Linked DNA regions of Homo sapiens: region 2 is linked to region 1. Evidence: fine-mapped expression QTL. Tissue or cell type: lung. Region 1 holds a variant in brackets; the other region holds the start of a gene. All regions are shown on one strand. Distances are from middle to middle.

What was found. PIP is the estimated chance that this variant, and not a neighbour inherited with it, causes the effect.
Region 2: it holds the start of PITPNA, and the variant in region 1 is fine-mapped to the expression of PITPNA in lung (TOPMed, PIP 0.96).

The regions. Positions count from the first base shown.
Region 1 is chr17:1,521,014-1,523,766 of GRCh38, reverse strand. PITPNA (phosphatidylinositol transfer protein alpha) reads left to right here. Exons shown (of 12, transcript NM_006224.4): 11 at 2,122-2,188. The coding sequence ends at 2,166. Among named protein-coding and RNA genes, the nearest start is that of PITPNA-AS1, 5.5 kb to the right of the region's middle. The variant A/G (reference allele first, on the strand shown) is at 1,704.
Region 2 is chr17:1,561,562-1,564,314 of GRCh38, reverse strand. It overlaps PITPNA (phosphatidylinositol transfer protein alpha), which reads left to right and starts at 1,523. Exons shown (of 12, transcript NM_006224.4): 1 at 1,523-1,774. The coding sequence starts at 1,755. RefSeq lists silencers at 1,351-1,630, 1,701-1,750, 2,231-2,360 and enhancers at 1,203-1,702, 2,471-2,570.

The sequences.
Region 1 (2,753 bases):
GAGGCTGAGGCAGGCAGATCGTGAGGTTAGGAGATTGAGATCATCCTGACCAACATGGTGAAACCCCGTCCCTATTAAAATACAAAAAAAAATTAGCCAGGCATGGTGGCGTGTGCCTATAGTCCCAGCTACTGGGGAGGCTGAGGCAGGGGAATTGCTTGAACCCGGGAGGCAGAGATTGCAGTGAGCCGAGATCACACCACTGCCATCCAGCCTGGCGACAGAGAGAGAGACTGTGTCTCAAAAAAAAAAAAAAAAAAAGCCAGGCGTGGTGGCACATGCCTGTAGTCCCAGCTTCTTGGGATGCTGAGGCAGGAGGATCACTTGAGCCAGGGAGTCGAGGCTGTAGTGAGCCATGATTGCGCCACTGCACTCCATCCTGGGCAACAGAGCCAGACCCTGTCTCAAACAAAACAATACAGTCTAGGGAGTTTCATTCTAGCAGCTATGCTCTTAGGTGCTCAAAATTTGTTGAACATTATAAAGAACAAAAGTTGAGCAGAAAACTAATGGATAGTGAAGAAATACTTATTGACATTCTTCACATAGAATGGAGTTTTCAAATCAGAACTGATTTTAGAGAGATGACGTCTACAGTATCCCCAGTGATGTCTGCCTGGAAGGTGCCAGTGACAGGGACCACTTGGTGCTTCCACAGAAGCCCCCATCCTGTTTTCCAGCAGCCTTGCACATCTGTGGATCTGAGACCTGCACCTGCACTTTCCACCTCTGCATCCTTGTGCCTAGTTCTGACACCACATTGTGCCCACCTTTAAACAGGTCAGGAAAGGGAAGTTCTGTTACTCTGCCGGGAACTCCTCTCCCGGAGAGCCACAGGATTTTCTCCCTCATTTCTCTCAGGTTTCATCTCAAACCTCACATACAAGCTTCTGTAACTACCTAAAATAGCACTTACCCACAGTCATTCTGTATCCGAGCAGCCCACAGTCCTAGCTGACATAGATGAATGTTTGTTCTCTGCCCATCCTGCCCCAGAATATAAGCTCCTTGAGGAGAGAACTGGTCTGTTTAGTTCACAGCTAAATATTCCCAGCCCTCTGGAAGTCCCTAGCACTAAAGAGATGCCTCACTGAGGCTGGGTGCGGTGGCTCACGCCTGTAATCCAAGCACTTCAGGAGGCCAAGGCAGGCAGATCATCTGAGGTCAGGAGTTCAAGATCAGCCTGGCCAAAATGGTGAAACCCCGTCTCCCCTAAAAATACAAAAATTAGCTGGGCGTGATGGTGCATACCTGCAATCCCAGCTACTTGGGAGGCTGAAGCAGGACAATCGCTTGAATCCAGGAGGCAGAGGTTGCAGTAAGCCAACTTTGCGCCACTGCACTCCAGCCTGGGCGACAGAGCAAGACTCCTCACACACACAAAAAAAGATGTTTCGGCCAGGCGCGGTGGCTCACGCCTGTAATCCCAGCACTTTGGGAGGCCGAGGCGGGTGGATCATGAGGTCAGGAGATCGAGACCATCCTGGCTAACAAGGTGAAACCCCGTCTCTACTAAAAATACAAAAAATTAGCCGGGCGCGGTGGCGGGCGCCTGTAGTCCCAGCTACTCGGGAGGCTGAGGCAGGAGAATGGCGTGAACCCGGGAAGCGGAGCTTGCAGTGAGCCGAGATTGCGCCACTGCAGTCCGCAGTCCGGCCTGGGCGGCAGAGCGAGACTCCGTCTCAAAAAAAAAAAGATGTTTC[A/G]TAAGTATTTGTTGAATGAATAAATGAATGAAACGGGCCAAGTGTGGTGGCTCACACCTATGCTGTAATCCCAGCACTTTGGGAGGTTGAGGCAGAGGATCGTGTGAGGCCAGGAGCCCAAGACCAGCCTGGTCAACATAGGAAGACCCCCCCACACACACCTCTTTACCAAAAAAAAAAAAAAAAAAAAGGTGCTTCAAACACCGTGACACGAGAGAACTAGAAATCATGGATGGTGAGACCAGTGACACAGATCTGGAAATGTATGGCTTCGAGTCCATATGCAGAATTCTTCCGTCCTTCCAGTGTCTTGCTTTTTACACAAAATATGCCCCACCCCACCTATGGGCAGGACTGAGAAGGCAGGAGTTCCATCAGCAGCAGGAGCCTTCCATTTGTCCTGCTTTTTTTGTTCCAGATGAGACAAAAGGACCCAGTGAAAGGAATGACAGCAGATGACTAAAGCCGCCTTTCCCCTCTGCACTGTACGTACCAAATTTCTCACTGTGCGTGTCACAGACGCTAAAATCAGTTTGGGTTTCAAGGCCTCAGCAGCTCACTATGGAGTCAGAAAACCTATTCCTCCTTCCCTCTAGTAATGATGGTTGCCACGCTCGATAGCTCTCCACTTCCACTAGGAGATTATGGCCCTTGGGACATTTCAGGGACATTTTCCAAAGAACCACCCAGATAGAGACAATGGACAGGGAGGGGGTGGTGGATATAGAAGGGGAGTTCATCTGCTGCGAATCACTCCTCCTGTCTGCCAGCTTGATCCATCTCAAGTTGCAGCTGTCATGTTGGGCACTCCCTGGCCTTCCCACGCCAGCGCCAGCTCCCAAAAGCTGCCATTACCTGCCCTTCCCCCTTGGAAAACTTGCTGGCCAGACAGCTTTTGTTAGCACCCACTGTTGTCTGGTGCTTCATTTCCTTCTTTATACCCCCGATCCCATACTAAGCTGCCCTCATCAGAGGTGGCATCTTTCAGATGCTGGGAGGGTGTTTCTGCCCAGGTCACAGGGCCAGATTGGGGGCCCCTTGTTTCATGTT
Region 2 (2,753 bases), 41 kb before region 1:
CCCGGCTCCCAGGCCAGAGACCTCGCTGCTTTTCTCTCCTCCTCTCAGCCAATGAGTCAACAAGTCTCACGGAGTTTACCTTCTGAGTTGCTCCTGAATCCATCCCTTCCTTTTCTTCCCTCCCACTGTCCTAGTCCACCTGCACCTGGACATCTGCAGCAGCCTCCTCGCCGGTCTCCCTGCCTACGCTCTGGCATTCCATCCCCTCTGTCCACCCAACCACTAGAGTGAGCCTTCGCCCAGGACACCCGCTCATGTCACTGCTCAGAGCCCTTACATGCCCTCCCACCGCCCTTAGGGTGGACTCCAAATACCTTATCATCGTTCACCAGGAACCCTCCCCTATTGAGCTGCTCAGCCCTGAAATGTTCTGTTCCACTCACTTGTCAGTTCTCCAAATGCACCATGCTCTCCCTCTTGCCTCCAGCCTTTGCATTCACTCTGCCTGCTATGCTCTTCTCCGAAGCCCTCTGCAGATCTGAGAATCTCTTCCTCCAGGAAGCCTTCCCTGACTACATCCCTGACGCTCAATTAGGTGCCCCTCCGTGTAATGCCGCTAAGCCTGTGTCTCATTTCTCACAGCCCTTTTCATTCTTTTTTTTTTTTTTTTTTTTGATGCAGAGTCTCGCTCTGTCGCCCCAGCTGGAGTGCAATGGTGCGATCTCGGCTCACTGCAACCTCCGCCTCCAGGGTTCAAGCGATTCTCCTGCCTCATCCTCCCGAGCAGCTGGGACTACCACCACCACGTCCACCACCACGCCCGGCTAATTTTTGTACTTTTAGTAGAGATGGGGTTTCGCCATCTGGTCTGGAACTCCTGACCTCAGGTGATGCGCCCGCCTGAGTGCTGCATTACAGGCATGATGTGCCTGGGATTACTGCCAGGAGCCACCGCGCCCGGCCTCACAGCCCTTTTCTTTTCTTTTTTTTTTTTTTGAGACGAAGTTTCACTCTTGTCCCCCAGGCTGGAGTGCAATGGCGCGATCGCGATCTCGGCTCACTGCAAACTCTGCCTCCCGGTACAAGCGATTCTCCCGCCTCAGCCTCCCGTGTAGCTGGGATTACAGGTGCGTGCCTCCACGCCCAGCTAATTTTTGTATTTTTAGTAGAGACGGGGTTTCATCATGTTGGCCAGGCTGGTCTCGAACTCCTGACCTCAGGTGATCCGCCCGCCTCGGCCTCCCAAGGTGCAAGGATTACAGGCGTGGGCCACCGCGCGCGGCTATTAATATTTTTTGAAACAACCTTTTCCTGGGTCTCAATTCCCTCAACCGGGGAGGCCCCCCAGCCAGCACCCGCGTGCATCCGTGGCGGTTCACACCGAGGACGGTGACGGACACCCTAGTCTGCTCCGCCTTCTGCCGGGTCTGGCCCCAGCCGCGGGGCCCCACCTCGGAACCGACAGCGCCGCCGCGGCCCACTTAAGGACGGGAGGGCGGGCCTGGGAAGGCTCGGCCCCGCGTGACGTCAGCGCGCACCGCGGCGTGTGACGCTCTGGTTGCCGCAGAGACGCCCCGCCCCCGCGCGGCGCTGCGGAACCGGAGCTCCGGGCGGCGTCGGCAGCGGCGCGAGAGGCGACGAGGCCCGGGCGGCAGGAGCCGGCGCGGCGACCGCGGCGAGGGCGGCGGGGACGGAGCAGAGCACGACGAAGACGCACAGGCAGCCGGGCCGGGCCGGGCCACGGGGAGAGCGGCCGGCGGGCAGCGGGCGGGAGGCCGGGCGGGCCGCGGGCAGCCACCGAGCCGCGAAGCGACATGGTGCTGCTCAAGGAGTAGTGAGTGTCCGGCGGCCGTGCGGAAGCGGGGAGGAGGGAGGGTGGGGACGGCCGCCGGGGCGACGGCGCGGCGAGGGACGCAGGGCCCGGATGGACGGAGGGGCAGCAGGGACGGAGGGTGCCTGAGGCGGGCCCAGCGGGGATGGAGGGGATCCGGGGCGGGCGGCACGTGAGGCGGGGCCCACGGGGCACGGAGGGGCGGCCGGGGCGTGGAGGGGCGGCCGGGGCGTGGAGGGGCAGCCGGGGCGTTCGGCATCTGAGCCGGGGCCCACGGGGCATGGACGGGCAGCCGGGGCATGGAGGGGCCCACGGGCACGGAGGGACAACCCGGGCGGACGGCTCCTCAGGCGCCCCGGGGGCCTCGGAGGCCCAAGTGGACCCGAGGAGAGGCCGGGGACAGCGAGGGCGAGGCCAGGCCCGAGACGGGGTCAGGGCAGGGAGAGCTGGCCCGGGACTGGGGGAGGCCGAGGGGACGCCGAGCGCTGGGAGTGCTGTGGGGTCGCTCTGCGCGGGCCGAGGGCGCGGGCTCAGCCGGGACTGCAGGCGGCGCTGAGAGGCCCCGCGGCGGCCGAGGAAGAGGCGCACCGGGGCAGGCAGGGCCTCCCGGCGGTGGGGAAAGGTGGAGGGCCGAACAGTTCACACGGAGAGCCGGGTGGATGGGTCAGAGGCTCCGCGATGGAGTTGGGATGGGGATGGGGAGGAGTGGCCGCCTTAGGCATCGGGTGAGGGGTGGTGGTAAGTGGACACAGGAGGAGGACTAGGAAGTCAGGGCCTGGCTGGGGAGACAGGTGAAGGGTCTGAGGACATGCAGAGGGGGCTGAGATGCGGGCCGGAGTAACCGTGGTGCCCAAGCAGCTGGTGCGGAAGAGGAGGCTTTTGGAACAAGCTTGGGATGACTGCTTGGGACGTGGGGAGACTTGGGCGAGGAGGCCAGAAAATGTTGGGTAGGGTCCGAAGTGGAGAAGGCCGGGAAGTTACC